Linked DNA regions of Homo sapiens: all the other regions are linked to region 3. The links come from fine-mapping of genetic effects on gene expression. A gene starts in region 3. Each other region holds a variant in brackets. All regions are shown on one strand. Distances are between the middles of the regions. Region 1 overlaps NSA2 (NSA2 ribosome biogenesis factor). Region 2 overlaps ENC1 (ectodermal-neural cortex 1). Region 3 holds the start of HEXB (hexosaminidase subunit beta).

What was found. PIP is the estimated chance that this variant, and not a neighbour inherited with it, causes the effect.
Region 1: its variant is the best candidate, but not a certain one, in a credible set for the expression of HEXB in whole blood (TOPMed, PIP 0.79).
Region 2: its variant is the best candidate, but not a certain one, in a credible set for the expression of HEXB in whole blood (TOPMed, PIP 0.52).

The regions. Positions count from the first base shown.
Region 1 is chr5:74,777,046-74,785,229 of GRCh38, forward strand. It overlaps NSA2 (NSA2 ribosome biogenesis factor), which reads left to right. Exons shown (of 6, transcript NM_014886.6): 6 at 1-3,068. FAM169A (family with sequence similarity 169 member A) reads right to left here. Exons shown (of 13, transcript NM_001376049.1): 12 at 5,886-6,089; 13 at 529-4,963. The coding sequence ends at 4,415. It also overlaps the pseudogene RNU6-1330P. Among named protein-coding and RNA genes, the nearest start is that of NSA2, 14 kb to the left of the region's middle. The variant C/T (reference allele first, on the strand shown) is at 4,897.
Region 2 is chr5:74,627,077-74,635,260 of GRCh38, forward strand. ENC1 (ectodermal-neural cortex 1) reads right to left here. Exons shown (of 3, transcript NM_003633.4): 2 at 7,608-8,184; 3 at 333-2,916. The coding sequence ends at 7,640. Among named protein-coding and RNA genes, the nearest start is that of ENC1, 9.6 kb to the right of the region's middle. RefSeq lists an enhancer at 3,833-4,646. The variant CA/C (reference allele first, on the strand shown) is at 3,972.
Region 3 is chr5:74,680,192-74,688,375 of GRCh38, forward strand. It overlaps HEXB (hexosaminidase subunit beta), which reads left to right and starts at 5,042. Exons shown (of 14, transcript NM_000521.4): 1 at 5,042-5,368. The coding sequence starts at 5,070. RefSeq lists a silencer at 4,730-5,069 and enhancers at 4,754-5,254, 5,760-5,809, 5,870-5,919, 5,930-6,019.

The sequences.
Region 1 (8,184 bases), 97 kb after region 3:
AATCATTAATCCTAAAAAAGGTAGGTAGCATTAATACAGATGTTAAGTTTATAGTGTTTGTTTACACTAGAAGTATGTGAGAAGACACTAAAAGTTCAGAAATCTTAGAGAAATCTTTTCACCTGTGAAATCCAGTACAGCAAAGGTCTAGTGAATTCACATTCTAAACATTTTTTTCATCTCATTTACCATGTATAATAATACCTACTTGGCACTATTTTCTACTTGAATCATGAAAATGAAAAAAATATACTAAAGTCTTTGTACTCTCTTAGCATTTTCTGTATTCTAAACAATATATTTATACTTTCAGAATAGTATTAAGAATTAGTTTAAGTAACTCCAGCTAAGTTTTAAAAGGAAAAAGAAGACTGCACTGATTCCCTGAGGAGAAATTTATTTGCAGTTACTTAGATGATGTAAAAAGGTAAGGATTTACGGTTGTAACTTGGTGAAAGCACTTTTGTGATCTGTTATATGTTGTGGTTTTAAGGATGGCGTATATTACATTAATCTATAATCACCACATTGTTTTAAATTGTTTATTTTTTTTTTAAAGAAGTCTGTCTTCAGAGTACAACCAATGTGATTAATTGTGCCTTTAACAAAGTCATTCAATGTCTAAACAAATTCAGTATCTGAAACATCTTCATGAGGAAAACTGAAGGAAAGGAATTTAAAAACACAGACCAGGAAACAATCACAAAATATAGGTTTAATTACTACTTTTAAACTTAAAAAAAAATAAAAACCAAGAAAACAAACATAGGTACTCCAGTAAGACTTGCTACTCTGAATAATGTAACATTTTTTCTAAGTTCTATAAATATATACTGGAAGTTTTAGAACACATACAGACGCTTAGGAAAAGAAAGGCTAGTTCCTTGGAAATGACGATCCAGGATGATACAATCACTTGATGACAGAAGGTAAGCCTTTCTTACAATTAGATTTTAGCAGATAATTTTACCACTAATATAAATGGGTGATGTGTGGATCACAAGTTCTAGAAGGCGAATAAAAATACTGACTCCAGGTAATTTCTGGATACTACAAAAATGAAGTTTGCTTGTTTTTTTTAGAACCAAAAATACTATCTTGTAAGGTACAAAGAAAGCTTGATATTAAGTATGAAAACATAAGCATAACATTTGTAACTAATCACACCCATGAAAGACGACTAGATGACACCTGAAACATTTTTCAAAATACTGTAACACAGATGAGTAATATTAGTATAAATTTTTTATGTACATTAAGATCTGTTTCAGTTTGCTGGTGTGACCAAACCTTAGAAGGTAATCCCAAGGGATAAAGCAGAACATAAGAGCAGATATTTAGATATTAGTACAGGCTCAATTTGATGCAATCATAAACCTTCAAGATTTCTAGTCACTGAAACCCCATTGTAGGTAGTGTTCTGGAGTCTGCTATAAGTAAATCTTTAATGACTAGATGTTTTCCTTACCATCTACACTGAATGGAAATACCATGAATATAGACACATTTTAAGTAGAAGACTGACGTTCTAAATCATGCTGTTTGATTTTATAAAAAAATCATAATAGACCCTCTCACCTTTAAAAGTTGTAGAGGAGCTTTATAATAAATTCTTAAATATACTAATTTCTGTGATGTCTAGCAATTGAATAATTTAAACTTGAAAGAACTAAAATACTAATAACCATCTGCTTTATATTACACAAGGAAATATACACGTATGTACATAAAAAGTGAACTCCCTTCACAAATAAGTTCACAAAGGACTATGTGTAATGTGACTGGACATTCAACAACTAGACTAGCCGGTTGAAATCACATTTTCAGTCCTCTGTAATTGTGAAATTTTTTCTAATGCCTTGCAAAAACTACAGATAACTGATTAAGTTCATGTAGGTTCCTTATTGAAGATAAATTGTGGTATAAATTCTATACTCAAGTTACTGAACATGAGAGTTAGGTTTTTCCAAGTGATCTAACTTTTCCCTCTATAATCTATAAACCCCAAAATAACAATTTCTGTCAGAGAGAATCTGTAACAGAAGTGTTCTTGTGTGCTGAACAAAAAACTTCTAAATTGTTTACAATTCACTTACTATTTAACCCAAACAAGTTTAACAAGAATAAGTTTATACTGTTAGCCCCCAATGGTCATATATGATTAATAAACATTTTTTGTAAACTCAACTATATTCACACATCAAGAGTTGAGCCAGTGAGCTCAATCTTTAAAAAACTACACTTGTCTAAAGAAAGTCTTTTAGTGCTCACTTCGGCAGCACATATACTAAAATTAGAACAATACAGGGAAAATTAGCATGGCCCCTGTGCAAGGATGACACAAATTCATGAAGCGTTTCCATGTTTAAAATAATTTGAAAAGAAAGTATTTTAAACAAATCCAAGTAAAAATAAAATATCTACAAGTGTTTTCAAATCTAAGAAATGAAACATGTAAAGATTAAGAATTTACTGAATCTTAACAGAGTATTTCCCTTTGTGATATTGACAGAAGTTTCTCATAAAATGTATAAAACAGCATAAATGTTTGGTAGATTCACTAATAGTAGTCATACTTTTTTTTTTTTACTTAGTATTAGCATTTGTTGAAAAAATAAATGGCCAAAGTGCTTTAATTTTCATTTAGAATGAAATAATCTGGCTTACCTTTGACTAATTAAAGAAAATATAGGGTAATACAATTGTTCAAAATCTAACACAAATAGGAGCGTTTACTATTTTTGTCTGCTTTAAGATTTTAACTTGATCGAAAATACCAACATCCCCAAACAAAATTTACTGACCTGACATCAGCTTACTATAGACTGAATACACTTTCAACATCAGTCCTTAGCTACCTCAAATAATGACACAAAGTCTTAGTTTCTTTTGCATAAGGATCAAGATCAAGCTATTTTTAAAACAATTTAAATGGTCTCAAAACATTCTCCAACTTAAGTGCAAATTTGAGTACACATAATATTTCCAAAGAGTAGAACTGTTTTTAGATTATCTTTGGATTCTAATAACCATTTTGTCCATTTTTAAATAAATTACAAAAAATAACAGTTCAGTGTTTTTTTTCTTCAAATTTTCCTAGGCCTTTGTTATGGCAACACAATATATACTTAACAGGCCAGCTTGCAACCAGTACTCAGTACAAATCAAAGGATGATTGAAGCCTCCAATATGATTGAAGCCCTTGTAACCACAGCTCCCCCAAAGGCAGTTTACCCCTGCCATATAGGTCTAACACTGGGGGCAGTTTTACTCCTGCCATATAGGTCTAACATTGTGGGGTGCACCTCCAAACCTACCCAAAAATGGACATCAAGGGCATAAGCCGGCAGGCAGGAAGATCTGTTGATTGGAGAATCACTCCATGAGTTACAGAAGTAGATGAAAGCTGTGGGGGAATATAAATAAGACTGTAGAATTAGGGAGGTGGCAAGATTTAAGGAGATGCCTTAGGAAGGAGCCTCATACTTCTGAAATATAGATGTTAACTGGGTTGGGATAAAAGTAAAATCTCCAGCTTAATTTATCTATCTGATCAGGACCAGAAGTCCAAATTAAACCATGTCTCCAAAGTATAGTTGTGATTTTTACCTGATTAAAGGTGAAAGTCTAAACTTCTAGGCGTCTGCACATATGCAGACAAAAAAAATTACAGCAAACTAATACTTCAAATGAAATTTTAAATAATTAGTCCCCACATGCCACAGTTAAATCCCTGACAGTACTGTTAACATCAGATGATAGAATGAATCAGAAACAGATTTTATGTGTACCTTTCCATAGATAGTGAAGTCAAAGGAAAAAACTGCATCTATATCTAGGATTAAGAGGCCAAAACCAAAATATCTTCATGAACCTTTGACCGTAAGTTTCTGTTTTTGTGCTCTCATTTACTTGAAGTTATATTTTTTCTAATTTATTGACACTTATTTTTGTTTAGGCATGCCTACATTTTAAAAAATTGGTGATTAGTTTTGAAATTTAAAACTTCTAGAACCCTCACCAAGTTTTACTATTAAAACCCTTAGTATAAAAGATTTCTGTGATCCTTATAAGTAATGGAAATCCTACTACTTTCACAGCTTTTTAATTATATTTTTGAAATAATGGTCAGATGTACCACCTGATAAAGAAAATATAATATGATCTGGTTTCCCAAAATTGAAACATGGTTAATAAAAATAAAAAATTGCATTTACCAAAAATAGCCTGGAAAATTAAAAACAATGGTGAATTCTACGTTCTAAAGGGAAGCAAAAAACTGCATAGTAAGTAAGTTCAAATTGAAATTTTGGAAATTTTTGTCCTGTGCCCCATGCTGTTTATTAATTACCATATTTTAAAAACAACAACTATGTTACAAAGAAGAGGATTTATCATCCACTTTCTTCTTCCTTCAGGTCAGCTTAGCTTTCTTCTTAGCAGGTCCTTTATGCCCTTTGGCCTTTCTTCTTAAATTCCGCCTGTCTACCACAGGCACTTCCACTTCTATTTCCTCTGAGCTGCTATCCACAGCTTTTTCTGCCGATTGTGTAAACTGATCCAGTTGCTCGGAAGATGCTTCAGACTGCTCCTCTGACTGATTCTTCTGTCCTGCATTCTGTGAAAATGGCACGTCTTCAAGTTCAACCTCTATCAAAGAACTCTGAGGAAGAGCAGTAGATGTTTCCTGGGGCTCAGATACCCCCTCCTCACCCTGGTCTTCCAATGAGGAAGTAGTATTAGGAGACAAATTCTCAGAGACCGGTTCTTCGGAAAATTCAGCTATCACAGAGTTTGGAAAACCACCATCAGATCGTTCTTCATTTGACATAGTAGCAACATTGTCTGAACTCCCAAGATGTGCTTTCTTTCTTGGAAGTAGGGACAATTTCTCTT[C/T]CATGTGCCCCTTTTCATCAGATGTGCCTTCATCCATCAACATTTCTGAGTCAGGTATACGTGGGGTCTGAAAATTAAAAACCTGGTCAACAAATAAACTTGTACTACAGTTCTAAAAATAAATTCTCAGGCTCTAATATGCAGTGACACTGAACTAGAATTTAATTCGGTATTCATTACTCAAAATCGAGTATTTTTTTGAATTTCTGTTCTGCTATATGTGTATATATTCTGAATACAACTCAATTTCTTCAAAATTGTTTCACATGGTAATTTTAATACTAAGTTATTACTTTGAGGATATAATGAAATAATTATTTCATAATTAAGACACATTAAGCTTCATATCAAGATTCTTTAAAACCATGAATCAACTCAGTTTTTTTAGTTTCCTGGTGTTACTGGAGCCAGAACCAAAAATACCTTGGGACTTCACTGCGCTACCACACTACGTTTGACTACGATTTCATTAGATAAGTTAGGGCAATGGAAGTTTTATTCTTTTGCTTAGGTGAGACACTAATAATGCCATACAACAGTTTTTTAGCCATAAGTTGTAATATTCAAAAGTAACAAAATTAAATTTCTTTTAAAATACTCCAACAAGTTTTTTCCCCCACTAACCTAATCTGTCTGCCTAATTAAAACAAATATAAATTACTGTTTTGGTCATAGTCTATGTAACAAATATAGGTACTCAAATATTTGGTAAATAATGCTTTATCCAATTTTCTAAGCATTTCCTAACTACAAAGTATTAAAAGTAATAAAACTCATTTTGTTACCACATATCAGATATGAATAAGGTTATTATTTGAATTTATAGAATATTACTGATTTTCTTATAATATCAAATCTAGTATAAAAGTTAATCTTCCTAAAGCACTGTACATGTAAAGGTGGAAGCAAATATATATACCATGCACCCTCCTCGCTAATGTCACCAACATTGGTAAACTTTATTAAAAAATAGCTCATTGCCCCCTTACCTTATCTGGTGCATCTACCTCAGGGGGTTTTGAAGATTCTACCACCAGTGGAACAAGATTTGTAGAGTCTTCACTGGAATTAAAAGGCTGCAATTTTAATTCTTCATCTAAAACTTCACTAGTGGAGTCTTCCTCTTCTGTTATAAGTGAGGTCTTAAGAGAATCGTCCATTATCTCACCATTCATAGGCTCTAATTCAGATTCCTACACCATGAGGAGAGAGGGAAAAAGTAAGGACATGATTACAAACTAACTTATTTGTCATGCATGACGGGTCCCTTCTCAGTGCCTACCTATCCTACACCAAGACTCAAATTTACATTATAGGACATGGGTTAAAGAACAGTCTTACTGGGGGAAGGAGGAAACTCATAAGGCAATATCAGCAAAATAAAATAATCCTGAGTACCCCGTACTCCCACTGCTCTTAAGGAAAGATGGGGCAGGACCAGGATGCTCTGTGGACACACAGTATGGGTCGGAGATTCAATGAAAAGACCCTACCCACTTGTTGTTCCTCCTTCTTAGAGGGCAATCAGGGAAAGAACTTTTTCAGGAAAAAGGCACCAGACAGAGTATAGACTTGATGCTAGCTCTTTACATAACACCAGCTGTTCAGCATCTGGAATCTATGGGAAATTACAGTTTTCTGTGCCAGAGGTAGGAAGCACTACCAGTCTTATGGGAAGTTCAGTTTGGGTGCTGCATCTTGCTGGGAGGAGAGAGCCCTAGTCTCAGTCAACACCAGGGTCATTTCTGAACAGTCCTGCTCCTTGCATATCATTAAAGTATGGAAATGCTATTTGATAACATGAACTCTCCAATTTCTAAAATTCTCCCAATGTTTATCCATTTACTTCTATTTAATATCAAGTATTTCTAATCCTGACATTCTAATAATTAAGGGGAATTTTATTACCATTATTAAAATTATAAAACTGATGCATTCAAGTGTTCACAAATAGATTTGACTGTGTAGGACCCCTAAAAGCATATCAAGGAAATTTTTCCAAAAGAGAAATCACGGTTTTTAATTTTTCTATAGTAAAAAATTTATTAAATTGTTCTAAAATAAAAATTGTCTATAAAATATCTATTTTATTATATCATATGATACACAGAATAGAGTTCACACAGAAGGTAATATAAAGCTCATAAAAATGACCAGAGTCGAGAGACATATAATCTAGAGTTACTGGTCATTCCCATAGATAAAACAGTTGAAGTCATGAGATCGGATGTATTTTCAAAAAAGATAAAATGAACCAAAGTTCAGAAAATCAAGGACTTTTTCTAGAGTGTCCACAATAAGGGGGAAAAGGCAAGTAGGAGAAGAGTCAAAAAATAAAAATAATACTTCAGAGACAGAAAAAACAAGAAACCAGCATGGCCAATATGGTGAAACCCGCTCTCTACTAAAAATATAAAAATTAGCCAGGCATGGCGGCACTCGCCTGTAGTCCCAGCTACTTGGGAGGCTGAGGCAGAATAGCTTGAACCCAGGATGCAGAGGTAGCAGTGAGCCAGAGAGATCATGCCACTGCAGTCCAGCCAAGGGAGACAGAGCAAGACTCCGTCTCAAAAAAAAAAAAAAAAAAACAAGAAACCAAAGTGCAATAGTATTATAAAGTGAGGAGACTAGAGAACTTCAGGAAGAGAGGGTAATCAACCCAGGCTAAAAAAAAAAAAAAAAAAAAAAAAAATAGGCTGGGCCACGGTGGCTCACACCTGTAATCCCAGCACTTTGGGAGGCCGAGGCGGGCGGATCACAAGGTCAGGAGATCGAGACCATCCTGGCTAACATGGTGAAACTCCGTCTCTACTAAAAAATACAAAAAATTAGCCGGGCGTGGTGGCAGGCGCCTGTAGTCCCAGCTACTCGGGAGGCTGAGGCAGAAGAATGGCGTGAACCCGGGAGGCGGAGTTTGCAGTGAGCCAAGATCGCGCCACTGCACTCCAGCCTGAGCAACAGAGCAAGACTCCGTCTCAAAAAAAAAAAAAAAAAAATGAAAATGATAGTTGTCACTGTCACTGGTATATGTCTTATTGATGAAACAGGTTACATGAAGTATGTACAATATAATCTTAACTTTTTAAAAGTGAAAAAAAGGCCAGGCACCGTGGCTCACGCCTATAATCCCAGCACTTTGGAAGCCAAGGCAGGTGGATCACAAGGTCAGGAGTTCAAGACCAGCCTGGCCAAGATGGTGAAACCCCATCTCTACTAAAAATACAAAAATTAGCTGGGCATGGTGGCAGGCGCCTGTAATCCCAGGTACTCGGGAGGCTGAGGCAGAGA
Region 2 (8,184 bases), 53 kb before region 3:
TTTCTGTCAAAATATAACCCACGTGAGGATTTCAAAAAACTAAATTCATTCCAATATAAAGTATGCTGTCTTAATATCGCATGGTGTGTGACTTGTTATATTCCCAGCTATGAATAACCCATAAATGAGGAATTTTGTCTTGCTTAAAGAGATACTCTAATGGTCAGGAAGTTTTATTTAATATGCAAAATTACCTTTGTAAATATCACTAAATGGTGAAATAAAACACGTTCGGAATATCTGAAATGATCCTTCTTTGGATAAACGAGAAAAGGCACACGTTTACAATGCCTCAAATTGTGTCTTATTCAAATGAAGACCCACACACATAATGAAGAGAAAATCTCTAATAATTTATTGACCTTCAGTTTCACATTGTGAAAAAAAAAAAAATAACAGTTTTACAAAACCTCAAAATGTAGTCATAGCAAACAAGTACATATGAACATGAACATTTTCCTTCAACTTATACAGAGTTTTGTACGTGAACCACATGGTCAATAGCCAAGAGAGGGACATTATGCAGCTCTAATCACTCTTATTCAAGACAGGTGTCAAGCCCAAAGAAAAGGGGCTACACAATTATACCAGAAGTGGAGGGCTGCCCTTTGTTATGTGTTTCTACAGCAACCAGCCCACAAAATAAGAAGAACCTTCTCTGTCTTATGCCAAGGTTTTTGTGTGTACTGTGCTGTGAATTGTATTTGCTTCAAAGTGTGGGACGTTTCACAGGGTGAGAATGGTCAAGTAGTGAGACCAAATGCCTATATCGATTCAAAGAGTGGGAGTCCAGAAAGTTCCCTACAGGCTGGGGGCCCAACCCTTACCACAGCTCCCTCTGGCTCACACACAGTAATTAATAGAGGATTCAAGAACAGACCCCAACTTTGAAACAGCTGCAGAAAATTCATCCTGCTTTCAGAAGCCATGCAGTGACACATACATCTCTCTTGGCAGATTTGCATCATAAACTACAGAGCTGTAACTGCTACAATATAAACGACACTGACTATGCCCACTGGGGGACAATTAGACATTTGCATTGCTTAGAACACATCTAGGAACCAGGGACTGACTGCTGGAAAGTACTGTGATTCTTTTCTTCCAACAGCTCATTTATTTAGGCCCAACTACAGCCCACTCATTCATGGCATGGACGGACAAACACAATTAGTCTAAAGTACTAAGGTGGAGAGAAATGTTAAGGATTTATCTGTCATTAGACAATGCAAACACAGTCACAATGTAAAAGGTTGTTATCAGTCTTAACCCCTATTTTCTAAAATACAGCAATGTGAGAAACATGGACGAAAGCAGTTCGAGTTGCAAACTTTGGTCTTCCCCTGCACCTCAGGGGAAGCACCTATCTGAGACTAGCACTAATACCTACGACGGCACATGCTTAGTAAACAAGCACTCCAACTAGCAAAGAATGTATTCACAACTGATTTCCAACTCTACCGGAAAACTTCTCAATAGGGGCCACTGCCTACAATTCTTTGGTGTTTTGTGGCCAAATGTGTTACTTGTGCACCAAAGAGTTTTTTAAAAAGAGATTTGCCTACGGGTGAGCACTGAAGTATACATTGTGCCAATGTAATTATTGTCTTGGAGACCTTCTAGAACTTGCTAAATCATATAGCAAGAAGAGAATGAGTTCAGGCCCAGTAAATCTGGTGAGTTAATTTACATCTGTGATACTGCCGTTTTTCCCATTAAATGTGGTTATGGCAAAGCATTCTTAGGGTAATAAATAAATAAATAAACTTTGGACAATGCCTTTACTTGTGCCCTATATACAGAACTATTCCATAGAATTTTCCAGGATTTCAAGATACTACACAAAGAAAAAAACTGTAAAGCAATTTGGTCCTTTCCAAATTTCAGCAGCTGAGACTGAATTAAGTAAATCAGATGGGAGTGGGGAGAAGGGCAGAAAGCAGCCTCCCCTTACCCTATCAGCACAACCAAACCCCATGAAATCCCATTAAAAGTTGGTGAGTCTGAGAAAAGCGATCTCCACGGTTTCTCTACCTCTAGGATGTCATTTAAATTTCCATTTTGTCATCCTTCCCTGTCTTGACATTTTAAAAATCCACCCCTCCCCAACCCACCCTCCAGTTATGCTCCAAATTGTAACTCAAAAATTTTCATGTTTGTGCAGCAAAGCACATCTCAACAGCCACAAAATGTGCAAAACGTACAACCATTCACACACGTCCATACATGTGAAGACAGCTGTAGGCATTGTTTCAGCATGCAGGCATCGAACAATAAATAGCTAAATCTATAACAAACTTCTTAACAGCCAAGGGAAAGTTTAAAGTCACTTATAAATAGAAAAGAACATCTACCAAATGGCTACCAACAAAGTCCCCATTGTTCAGAAACGTTCCTGGGGAGCAGACCCCTTAGAGATTAACGGAGAGTCCAGTGGTCTTCATTCTTCAGCCAGCCCAGCCAGCTTCCCTCTCGGACCCACAGTTGGGCTTTGAATCTCCAGCAGCAGCTGGTGTGGAGGCTTCAAGCTCTGTCCTCAGAGAGAGGTGACAACCATTTCAAATTCTACACATAAATGGTGGGGCCCATGGAAATCAAATGCTGAATATGGTACAGCAAGGGAAAAGGTCCAGCTTTTCTCTCCCTTTGAGGGGCTGATTAACATTGACATTAATCCACAATTACAAGACAAGGACTAGATCACAGGTTTGTTCATTCATATTTAAACCATGTGCTACTTGCACCAAAAATCCCACCCCCCTCCCTCGCCCCTTTCCTTCATGTCCAGTTAGAGCATTTACAAGGTGCAGCAGATTTTATTCGAGTCTTGCAACTTCTTTTCCTTTTTTTCTCTTCATTAGACTTGGCCTCTCCGAAGTAGAAATCTCATATTATCTCATCGAGTGATGGAGTGAGCTGAAATAGAAGGAAAAGGAAAAAAAACAAAACAAAAAAGCATGAAGGATTTGTGTGATGCCATAGTTTTTAAATTTTTCTTATTAGCCACAAAATTTTTTTTTAAATTAAACTTGGTATGGAGCTGGACAATATTGCTTCCAAAGGTCTTACATGTTCAGTAGGAACTGTGCAAAGATATTTAAAGTACTTGCCTTAAATGCACACACGTGTGCACGTACACATCCATGCAGATGGCTGGCCTGACAAAAACAGTGGTGTCTAAAGAAGGACCTTCACTTCTTTCCTAAGCATACACACTTTCAAATCCAAACCTATATGTCTAGATGCTATTAGGAGTTGCCATCTTCTGCTTCCAACATTCATAAAATTTCTTTCTGTGGTTAAACAGAGCGACTGTAAAGTGATCACTAAGGGGTGAAAAGAAGGGAGATTCCTGTGCAAACCCTCCTTGGCCCATGTACCATGAAAGATTCCAAATTAACTTTACCATCTAGGAGGCAGACATACTAATCCTCTTATTTAAATGCATCTCTGTTATCCATTATGGCAGAAATCAGTCTCGCTTCCTTTCACATGACAATGTATCAGGCCTCAACAGCCCAAGTTTGGAGTTTATTCTCAAAGTTCGTCAGTCCACACGTAGGTGCCAGCAGCTACGGCATGCCAGTGCTACAGAATCTACGTACATCAAGTGTGAATATCAATTCAAAGTGCCGTAACCACAAAGCCTGCACATTTCATAGAGCTTGCATTTCCTCACACTGCTTACTCTTCCCATTTATTTATTTCTCATTTCATCTGGGGAAATTGTGCAGAGGGCTTTTGTATCCCTATTGCTGTAAGTCTAAGTACAGACAAAGGGAATTCTGGAGGAGCCACTCATGACCTTGCACTGAATTCTTTGCTTTTGTGTGTTCAGAAGCCTGATTCATTTCATGAGTTGTTTCTTTTGGCTGTTTCCTAACAGTGATTCAAGCTTTCAAGGCATGCCTTAGACTACGGTGTCATTGCCCCACCTCCACCTCCTTGTAACCTATATGTCAACATTAGGC[CA/C]AAAGAATGTATCTTATAATAATATAAAATTTCAAGACAATGCATATTCAAACAGGAAAAAAGGAATACACACACCCTCCCCCCAAAAAATTGCATATTCAAACAGGAACGATAATAAAAAAAAAAAGGACACACAACAACAACAACAACAACAAAATCTAGAGAAGAAACAAAGCAAATCAAAGCCTAAGTTAGGTTGAGGCCACACGGCACCATGAAAACAGAGGATAATCAAAGTAATTTCCTTTCTGCCCTTCCCACCCACTGGCAGAGCAGCAGGAGGCAGATAAAACCTCCTAGGTGGATGAGCTTTAAGACCTAGGGAAACTTTCTGTTAAACACTCTATTAATTCCGTTAGCACCTACATTTGGAGGGCAGAGGAATTTGCAGTTTGGGACTGAGACCCACCTACCCAGCACTTTAAGGCACTCCAACCCCCTCTTAAATGTTTTAGCACTATCTTGTGTAGTAAACTTTAGAAATTTTAACCAACATTCTCCCTGTCGGAAATTCAAAGAGTGGCTTTGATCAGGCGCTTACGCTGCCCTTTAAAAGCAGCAAACTTGGCCCTGTCAAATTTAGTTTTCATGTGCTTGACTCTCTCACTGGTAGCGCCAAGGGTGAAGAGGATGTTATTTCACATATAACTTAACACTTTACTTGCTCTGTTTCCCAGCGACCGGAAGGGTATGATTCAGTTCAAACACCCAGGGTAGGGTGAAGTCAAGTGTTTGCCAACATGTTCACTCTGGGCTGAAAAAGGAGGAACCAAAAGTGAAGTCTAAAGATAACAAGCAGATAATAGTCAAAGAAACCTCATTTTCCTACCACACAGAAAGCTAATTCCACTGCCATTATCTCACAGTAAGTTACTACACGTCAAGCACTGGGCTAGGTATTTTCGCCTCTTTTAACTCCCCTATCAATTGACCCAAGTCTGAGTTGGGACAGATCACAGGAGATTAAAGATCAAACCACTCATTTGACAGAGAAGCAACCTAAAACTCAGGAAGGTCTAGAACTTAAAACTAGGGCCAGAATACACATGTGGCTTCTCTCCTCTTTCTGCCTCAATTTCCTTACCTTGTTCCAAGGATTCCAGCCAGCCTGCCCATTGTCATTTTTTATGTACCACCACCCTGGTAGCAATTTTTATGGCTCTTCTGTGCAAATATAGTCAGTTCTGGACTAACACCCAACTAAGTGTGCTGTTAATTGATGCTTTCGCCTAGGAGGTTCTTTAAACCTGCTTTAGAGGTGAGTCATGCATTCATATCTCAAATGAAATAACCACTTTCAGAGCATTTGTTTATTCAAGATTACTGAGATGCCAGCAAGGCTACAAAAAACCAGTTTGGTGTGAGACACTATTAGCCCAGTTGCTCCCCAGAGGAGGTGTCTGATTGTTCCTGCTGCTTTGAAGGAGTTTCATTCCAGGAAAGCATGACATAACTCAGAACTCTGATAACTGTACGAAGGCTGGAAGAGATAACTGAAGAAGTAAAAAAAATAGCAAGCTGGAGGCCAAGTGCGGTGGCTCACGCCTGTAATCCCAGCACTTTGGGAGGCTGAGATGGGTGGATCACTTGAGGTCAGGAGTTCAAGACCAGCTTTACCAACATGGTGAAACCCCATCTCTACTAAAAATACAAAAAAGCCCGACGTGGTGGCGGGCACTGTAATCCCAGCTACTTGGAAGGCTGAGGCAGGAGAATCCCTTGAACCCAGGAGGCGGAGGTTGCAGCGAGCTGAGATAGCACCATTGCACCCCAGCCTGGGAAATAGAATAAGACTCTGTCTCAAAAAGAAAATAAAATGGCAAGCTGAAATGTGAGAGTGAGGCCAAGTTTAATGATGTTTCTAAATGAGCTGTAAGGGACAGGGAAAGAAAAGACCAATGAGATGAAACCCCTCTGTGCTTAGCTTGCCACTAGGCCTAGATCTCCTTTTCTCCCTTTGAAGTCCCCTTCAAAGGTGTGAAACATACTAGGGAAAACAGAGCCAAAAGTTCCCAAGTAAATGAGTTTGTTTTCATTGTAGTTCCTCCAAAGCAGTTACTTTCTTCTCTTATTATTAGTAATAAGCCCATGAATCACCAAAACAAGTCAACACATCCTGTGTGCGCTGGGCTATACTTACACATGCCTAAGCGATTCCTGGGGCCAATCCTAAGAATGCTTAGCAGCAAAGCAGCCGTGAGCTTTGCGAACTCTGAACTGTGTAGGCCTATTAATTATTTGAGCCAAGAGTATTCTATACTCTTAAATACACAGACAACTATTATGTACTCAGATATATGACTCAGAAACACAACTTTTGTTAGCCTTGACAATAGGGTCGGCCTGACTGATTAACTCTGAAAGGCCATAGTTTGGGAAGTTTAGGTGGCTCTGTGTTATCTGCACAAATTTCTGCTATGTACATGCAACCTTTTACAAAGACAGATATAGATTTATCTTTAAAGGTAATAAACGCCTTAAAGGGGGCTACTTTTTAAGTAAAACATTTAAAATAAGCTAATAATTTTGGAGAGAATAAACTAGGAATGAATTTGAGCAATACATTTTTAAACCCTAATCATTCTACAAAGGGTTTGAGGAAGCAAAATTTGAATATAAATGAAGTATCACCTGGGATGACATTGGTGTCATGGATGTGAAGCTCAAGTTTATTCGGTGGCAGTGCAACACGATGCTCCAGTGCTGATGCCCTAGAGCCAGACCCCCTGCATTGACTTCCTAACCAGCTCCACCTCTTACTAAGCTCTGCTAACTCGGGCAGCTTAGCCTCCGTAATGCATGAAGGTTTTTTCATCTATAAAATGAAGCTAGTAATAATTCCCCACGGGGTTGTTGTGAGGATAGAATGAGATGATCCGTGGGAAACACGTGGCACCGCTGCAAGCACACAGTGAGGGCTCAATAAACATTAGCTGGCATACTTAACAGAGGTCAGGGGTTCTCAACTTGGTTGTTCATTGGAATCATCCGGAAACTTTTTAAAAATACTGATGCTTGGACCCCACCCCAGACCAAATGAAACTAAGTCTCTGGGATGGGCAGTTTTTAAAAAAGCTCTTCAGGGCCGGGTGCGGTGGCTTATGCCTGTAATCCCAGCACTTTGTGAGGCCGAGGCGGGCGGATCATGAGGTCAGGAGATCAAGACCATCCTGGCCAACATGGTGAAACCCCGTCTCTACTAAAAATACAAAAAATTAGCTAGGCCTGGTGGTGGGCGCCTGTATCCCAGCTATTCGGGAGGCTGAGGCAGGAGAATGGTGTGAACCCAGGAGGCGGAGCTTGCAGTGAGCCAAGATCATGCCACTGCACTCTAGCCTGGGTGACAGAGCGAGACTCTGTCTCAAATAATAATAATAATAATAAAATAAATAAAAAGCTCTTCAGGAGATTCTGAGGCTCAGTAAAAGCTGAGAACCACTGGCTAATGCCATGGTGGGGGCTGAGGCTGTGGTCAACACAAGTGGATAAGTTCTAGGGGCACCAGCTCTCTTATTTTTACAGCTTTGGTAGTACTTCTGCAGTACAGTCTCTGTGGATCAGATCTCACCCCATGTACTGAACTTACACAATAGCCTAATTATATGCATACTTACATCTATAGCTAAACTTCTTACCTCATGCTCACTCTCTTTAGAATGTACTGCATTTAAGAAGGCAGATGTTTCCAGGTGCTGACAAATGCAGTAGGAATCAGCGAGTACGGGACAGTGGTGATGCTGTTCCACACGTCTAATGTTGGATCGTAGCAGTCCAAAGTCTTGCATCGCTGAATGCCAAAGTATCCTCCAACCACGTAGAGTTTGTTTCCAGAGGCCACAGCATGGCAGCTCATGCGCTTTGCTGTCACATCTCCCACCTTGGTCCACTGGTAAGTCTCACTGTTGAATTTATAAGCAGAGCAGGCAGAGAATTCTGTATCACCCCCCATAATAAAAATCTGGTTCCCCAGCACAGCTGCTGCTGTGTAACGCCAGGGCTGGGGACAGGTGGCCGGTACAGTCCACCTGTTTTCACACTGATCGTAACACTGAACTTTGGGGAGCTTGTCATGACTGACACTGGTACCTCCGAAAGCAAATAACTTAAGTTTGGCACTCACTACTGCGGCGTTGCTAACGCCTTCTCGGAGTGGGGCCACCATGGTCCATTTGTTGATTGTGGGGTCATAATGTTCTACCTGCTTTAGAGAGA
Region 3 (8,184 bases):
ACAAGGTGACATCAAGAGCCATAGGGAATTATTTTCAGTCTTTGAATCCGGATCAAGGAACTTCAACATTTGCCTGGCTGGATTTTGGAATTGCTACAGACTCGTTGTTGCCTCTCATTTTTCCCTTTTTGAACAGGAATGTTTACAGTGGTTATTTTACACCTGTCCACCACTGTATTTTTGTGTCGGGGAGGAGTGGGAGGCAGATAACTTGCATTTAGTTCACAGGTCTTCACACTAAGAGGAACTGTACTTGAAGAACTTTAAGGAACTGCATCCTAGGAATCTCACCCACACCTGGATGTAATTTATATGCTAACATTCTGGATTTCAAGCTGCTTTTCTAAAGGGATGAGATTTTTGGGGTTCTTGGGAGAAAGGGAATGTGTTTTGCATGGAAGAAATAGAAATAATTTGTGGTCAGAAAGTATACTCCTCCCTTCAAAAGGTGGAAGCTAATTCCCCTCCCCTTGAATGTGGGAAAAATAAAAGCAAGGGAAAAATAACAGCAGGTACACATGTTAGGATTCCATTTTGGGGATATTTAGCACACAGTGCACCCAGGTGGAGAAACTTGATTCAGATTCTGATTAGACTAGTAGGTTGATGGTCTTTAATTAAAGGTCTGATTTTACCCTATAGAAAGTAAAAATCCAGTGATGCATTTTAAGCAATGGTGTTACATGTTTAGAAAGGTCCTCAGGGAAACCAGATACCATACAAATGAATTCAGTGGAAACACATTTGCTGTAAATCCATAGTGGTCCACTTTTTCATATTTCAGTCATCTGGGGAAACTTTGTTTCAGCTCCATGTTGTTTCAATTCCATGCGTTAGCTTTAATTAGCTGTGGTATCGTGAGCAAACCATTTAGTTCTTCGGGGCCCTGGAGCCTCAACATAGTCCTCTAAAATGGGGACAATAAAACCTACCTCTTAAGTTGTTTGGGGATAAAATAAGAGGATGATAATAATATGTCTGGCACCTTGTTGTTGGTGAATAAGTTGTAGTGATTATTACTTAGACTAATGGAGCTCAACAAGGTGATATTTGGCAATATCTGGAGACATTTATGTTTTTTACCACTGAGGCTCAGGGGTTGGGGGTGGTGCTACTGACGACCAGTGAGTAGAGCCCAGTTGCTACTAAACATCACGTAATGCACAGGACAGCTCCCCAGAACAAAAAACCATCTAGCCAAAAATGTCACTAGTGCTGAGGTTGAGAAACCCTGATTTAAAATATAACCCAAGCTGGGTGTATTGGTATAGGCCTGTAGTACTAACTATTCAGGAGGCTGAGACATGATTGCTTGAGCCCAAGCCCAAGTCCACCCTGAGTAACATAGTGAGACCCCATTTCTAAAAAATAAAATCTAACCCAACCATGAGTATGTTAATATTGTTCCCGTGTTATAGCACCCTTTTAAATAATGAGTCAGAGTTAATAACGGGGTGCAATAAAAAAGAGATCTGATAGTTTCACAAGATCTCAGGGCTTGGTGAATGTAACTCCAAATCTTCCTGAAACCACCCTCCATCACCCTAATTCCTAAATGCCCACAGTCATTCCCACCGATAATTTATCTCTTCCTAGTCTTCTAGCCTTCAATTTCCTTGCATCTGAGATCCACTCTTAAACTCTTCGGTGACTTACTTCTAAGGAATATAATGTGGTAGCAGTGATGCATGTCACTTACAAGATTACGCTATATAAAGGCATTGTGGCTTCCTCTTTGCTGTCTTTCTCAGATCATTTGGTTGGGAGAAGCCAGCTGCTATATTGTGGGTATGGCAAGTAACTCAGGCTTTCAGCCAGTTGCCAGCAAGAAACTGAGATCTGTTGCCAACAGCCATGCAAGTTAACTTAGAAGTAGATCCTCCGGGGCTGGGTGCGGTGGCTCACGCCTGCAATCCCAGCACTTTGGGAGGCCGAGACGGGCAGATCATGAGATCAGGAGATCGAGACCATCCTGGCTAACACGGTGAAACCCCATCTCTACTAAAAATACAAAAAATTAGCCGGGCGTGGTGGCGGGCGCCTGTAGTCCCAGCTACGCCGGAGGCTGAGGCAGGAGAATGGCGTGAACCCGGGAGGCGGAGCTTGCAGTGAGCCGAGATGGCTCCACTGCGCCCCAGCCTGGGCGATAGAGCGAGACTCCGTCTCAAAAAAAACAAAACAAAACAAAAAAAAGAAGATCCTCCAGCACTAGCCAAGCCTAAAGAAAAAAACCTTCAGACAACTGCAACTTCATGAGATAATCTAATCCAGAATCACCCAGCTAAGACTCCTAAATTCCTGAACCACAAGAACTGTGAGATATTTATCTTATTATTTATCTGTTGTTGTTTTAAGCTCCTAAATCTTGGAGTAATTTGTGACACAGCAATAGATAGCTAGTATGCAATGTGAAGTTGTAATTAAGTATATAGTAATTGCAACAACATAAATTGATGATTGAATCTTGGAAACATTATGCCGTGCTTCCATTGACAGTAAAAAGTGGCAGTAAAGATGGATATTGCAAATTATATTTGTCTTAATTATAAGAATAGGGGAGAATAGTGTGCCACTGAAGTTTTCTTTTATGGAAGAATTTTAAACATGCACCATGTAGGGGTGGAAAGATGTGATACCTTTCCTCATCCATCATGAGTCATGGCTGACACTCTTATAACAAAAGAGCAGATTAACACAAGGAAAGCATAACAGATTTATTTAATCAGTTTTACATGACATGGGAGCCTTCAGAATGAAGGCTCAAAGACCCAGGAAAAGCTGCCTATTTTGATGTTTAGGTTTGATGCAGAGCAGACAGCCAGGCAGAAATGCGATTGGGCAAAAAGGATATGATCAACCTAATGGTAATAGAGAGGAGAAACCTGGCAAGATGTGTCTGTTCAAATTCTTCTTGGCCTCTCTGTGTGGTATTCCTTCCTCCAGGATACGGTGCAGGGCCACTCTGGAACAAAAGTCTTGAGAGCCACTATCAGACAAGGTAGGTCAGAGAACCTCTTTATGGCTGGCTCCTACAGAAAGACACGGCAAGATTAGAGTAATATTTCTAGATTTTATGACTGGCTTTGGGGGCATAGGGGCTCTAGTTTCTTCTTTTTTTTTTTTTCTTTCTGAGACAGAGTCTTACTCTGTGGCACAGGCTGGAGTGCAGTGGTGCAATCTCGGCTCACTGCAACCTCTGCCTCCCAGGTTCAAGTGATTCTTGTGCCTCAGCCACCCAAGTAGCTGGGATTACGGGCGTGTGCCAGCACATCCAGCTAATTTTTGTATTTTTAGTAGAGATGAGGTTTCACCATGTTGGCCAGGCTGGTCTCGAACTCCTGGCCTTAAGTGATCCACCTGCCTTGGCCTCCCAAAGTGCTGGGATTACAGGCGTGAGCCACCATGCCCAACAGTGGCTCTAGTTTCTGTGACCCATTTTGAAAAAGAGGAATTCTAGTTTCTATGGCTTGCTCTGGGGAAGAAAGGGGAGCAGGAGAAAGAAAGGCAGGAGAAGGTCAGAAAGATCTTCTGACTCTCTTTTCTTCAGTTCCAAGTATTCAACATGCCAAAGTGCCACACTTTGGGGTCTCATTTTCTGAGGCCCAATAATCATTACATTTCTTTTCTTTCTTTTTTTTTTTTTTTTAAGATGGAGTCTTGTTCTTGTTGCCCAGGCTGGAGTGCAGAGGTGTGATCTCAGCTCACTAAAACTTCCACCTTCCGGTTTCAAGCGATTCTCCTGCCTCAGGCTCCTGAGTAGCTGGGATTACAGGCGCCCGCCACCACGCCCAACTAATTTTTGTATTTTTAATAGAGACGGGGTTTCACTTTGGTGGCCAGGCTGGTCTCGAACTCCTGAACTTGTGATCCGCCCTCCTTCGCCTTCCAAAGTGCTGGGATTTCAGGCGTGAGCCGCCGCACCTGGCCTAATCATTACATTTCTTTGAAGTCTTTCCTTAAAGCTCTTCCACCCTCATTTTCAGAATACTTATATAGCAGATCTGTGGTTTTGGTCTGCCTAGCGTTTTCTCCTTCTGGTAAGAGAACACCTCTTCTCCCTTTGGCATCTCCAGTCCGTGTTCGTCATGTGACTTCACTGGCTCTTCCTTAGGGATGGGTTATGAAATCAAACTTGTCAGTTGGGATCCTTTATATCGGGACCCACACAGATGAGCCAAGATGTTCTCTCTCAGGATTCCTTGGGCATGCTCTGCCCCAGGGAGTTCTGATAGGAAGGCTTTATTGACCACAGCTGAAGTGCTGTTACAGAAAAGCCTAGACTTAGGAGCAAATAAACTCAGCTCTCATCTCGGTTATCTGGTGGTTGGGCTGAGAGGAGAAAGGTGCTCCTCAAGCTTGGCTTCTCCAGCTTCACCGAAGCCAGGGATCCACAGGAGAGCGCCCGTGTTGACAGCGTGAGCGGCGACCCGGTGTCGGCCTGGCGTCCCGAGCCTGTGCACTGGGCCGTTTTCTTTTTCTTTTCTTTTTTTTTTTTTTTTTTTTTGAGACGGAGTCTTGCTCTGTTACCCAGGCTGGAGTGCAGTGGTGCGATCTCGGCTCACTGCAACCTCCGCCTCCCGGGTTCAAGAGATTCTCCTGCCTCAGCCTCCCGAGTAGCTGGGACTACAGGCACCCGCCATCATGCTCGGCTAATTTTTGTATTTTTGTAGAGTCGGGGTTTCACCAATTTGGCCAGGCTGGTCTTGAACTCCTGACCTCAGGTGATCCGCCCGCCTCGGCCTCCCAAAGTGCTGGGGCTACAGGCGTGAGCCACCACGTACGGCCAGCACCGGGCATTTTTCTTACTTTAGCCATCCCGTGTTTGAGGTTGCTGTCTGGGCTCTGCTCCTACCCGAGGGCACCCCTGGAGGAAATTCTCGAGGTGACCTGGACAGGGCGGGCTGGGCGAGGACGCTCCCGGGGCCTGGAGGCGGAGTCGGGGGCGGGCGCGCGCAGTCATCTGACTCGGTGACTCACCCGCGGCCGCGCTTCCTCTGATCCGGGCCGGGCGGGAAGTCGGGTCCCGAGGCTCCGGCTCGGCAGACCGGGCGGAAAGCAGCCGAGCGGCCATGGAGCTGTGCGGGCTGGGGCTGCCCCGGCCGCCCATGCTGCTGGCGCTGCTGTTGGCGACACTGCTGGCGGCGATGTTGGCGCTGCTGACTCAGGTGGCGCTGGTGGTGCAGGTGGCGGAGGCGGCTCGGGCCCCGAGCGTCTCGGCCAAGCCGGGGCCGGCGCTGTGGCCCCTGCCGCTCTTGGTGAAGATGACCCCGAACCTGCTGCATCTCGCCCCGGAGAACTTCTACATCAGCCACAGCCCCAATTCCACGGCGGGCCCCTCCTGCACCCTGCTGGAGGAAGCGTTTCGACGGTGAGCGCTCCCGGCCCGGCCGGGAGTTGTCCTGGGGGAGGGGAGAGGCGGACCACCCCGGAGCGCTGTGCAGACCCTCACCACCCCACTGCGCAGACGAGAAACCGCCTGGGAGCTGGCAGGCGATCTGCCCAGCGCCACATGGACTGAACCCACGCTCTTGCCCCCACCCTCCTACTGCTTCTTAAGGGACACCTTGGGTGCTCAGGAACCCTGGTTTGAGAGCCGGATAGTAAGTGGAAGAGGGAGTTTGCTCTGAGGCCTTGTTGGGCAAATGGCATGGACGGAGGGGACACCGGAGCTGGGGAGGAAAGTGACAGCTCCTTATTTGAAGGACGTGCAAAGGGATAAGTTACCCGAAGGGCTTAGACAAGCTCTCTTGAGGGACCAGGAATCCCCCAAAGCTGACTGTCATTTATAGGCCAGTTTCGCCCCCTCACCTCTCCTCACATCTCCTGGTAACAGCTCAAATGGCAGAAGTCCTCAGTTTCGAGCACTGCCTAAAACTGCCCTCTCTCCTAAAATCTCTTCCATATAAAATGTGACATGTTTGCATCTGACTACGTTTCTGCGGTCAGTGGTTAGGCAGTATCCAACTTTGTTTCTCAACACCGATCATGTTGCCTGCTCTCCCTGCTTCCTCTTTTACAGACCCCTAGATAGCGCCTCTGTCTCTCTCACCCTTTGGCTGCAGACAGGGTGAGTTTTGTCATGGGAGTCAGCCAATCACACCATAGACAAGGCAGGTTCCCCTGGGGAGATGTTTGAAGACGCCACACACTGTCCCCTCAGTGTGAGACCTGTGTAGGTGGGACTGTCCTGAAGGCGTATCGTGCCCTGCAGAATTGTAATTTGGTGCTAACTGTACTGCCTCCTGGCATTCCCCAAGCCTGTCGCTGTACCCAGTGGATACTATAGAGCTTAAGTGTGCTTGCAGGACCCTGAACAGGTGGGGAGGGAATGTCAAACTAACTGAATAATGTGTTCTGACCCCAGATAGGACAGGTGCCTAGGCTCAAGCTGCAGAGGCCCAAGATGCTGATGGCAGAAATGGTTCATTCTCTACAATCAGAAGGCTCATGGTTTCCTTCTGTTTTGTACAACTAAATGGGTATTATCAGTCTCTATTTTAGACACACACACTAATGAGCCTTTGGTATCCAATCTGCTAAGGCCAGAGTGGGGTTAAGATGTAGAACCAAAGTGTTTGGTTGCATTGGGATATTCAGAAAGATTGCATGGAAAGTACATGAAGGTTGTCTCAGAAGATCATGACTAGGGTTGGAAATCTTTTTAAAAACAAACACGCTTATTATGTTTGCCTTGGAGTTCAGCTTGTAGAATTGGATTTTCCTTCTGTGTCATACTGCTAAGTAAAACAAGGACTTGGTAATATGCTGAACTGACTGTGACAAGAAAGCATGGGTGATGTAAGTTAACAATAGGTAGATAACCAGGACTTAAATCAGCTGAGATGGTTCGAAGGCAAGGCTTGGTATTTCAAGGCATGTGCGGGTGATTACCTGAAGAGTTTGCCTAACTCATGGCCTCTGAGTGAAGCAGCCATTAATTATGCCTGGTATTATTAGGAAGCAGGTCATAAAATGTGTTGGCCCTTATGGCTAAGACTTGAAGGCATGCATGTGAGCATTCTAGGAACTCAGAAGGAGCAGCAGGTATCTCAGAGTAAAAGCACAGTGGAGTTGGAAAGATTTGGAAATATGGGAGTGTTCACAAAGTGCGACGTGGTCAGGAACACACAGTCTAGGCCCCAGATTGTTCAGCATCACATAGCCCCTGTCTCTGAAGAGCCCAGGTTGTATCACAAACCTTGCTTTGAAACAGTATGCTTTTTGCAGGCAGAGAGTTTGGCTGTTAGATGCATAGCTGCTTCTTTAGCTTCTAGAACAGCGTTCATCACATGCTAGTCACTCATTTTTAAAAATAAACAAATAGCTTCACTCCTTCATTTCCTGGAAGGCTAAACTAACCCACATACCTTTGACATACTGCCTCACAGCCCTTTGAGTTTTCTGTTAGAATTTTACTACCTAGGGTCAAGGTTCTAAGCCAGCTTCCAACTCTGATCTCAAAGCTGCCAGCAGCTTTAATTTCTTTTTTAAAAAAATTTTAATTAAGGAAAAAATACACATAACATAAAATTTACCATCTTAACCTTTTGTAAGTATGTATTTCGGTGGTCTTAATTTCCTTTTTAATCTGTCAGGGTTTTCCTATGAGAAGGGCCCTCAACACCTACATCCATTCCATTCTCTCATTGGTTAACTTCCATACACTTCCAAACATGTCAGAATTTTCCGACCTCTTCTGCAAAAAAGCATAAGACGTTCTTACACATAAGTAGCATATATAACCTTCTGGCTTACCAAAATCTGTAAAATATTATTTAAACAGTTGCCCTGAAGCCTATCTGATCTTTTTTATTTAGTGCCTTTACATTTTTATTTAATATTCTGATTTTTGGATACCAAAAACAATTGCTCTGAAGCCTGTCTGATCTTTTTTATTTAATGCCTTTACATAATTTTTATTTAATGCCTTTACAGAATTTTTATGTATTTAACATTTAATGCCTTTACAATATTTAATGCCTTTACAGAATTTTTATTTAATATTCTCTGATTTTTGGATACCAACAAAAGGTACTTTTTTTGTATTTAATATTAATATTAATATTTAATGCCTTTACAATATTTAATGCCTTTACAGAATTTTTATTTAATATTCTCTGATTTTTGGATACCAACAAAAGGTACTTTTTTTTTTTTTGAGATGGAGTCTCGTTCTGTCACCCA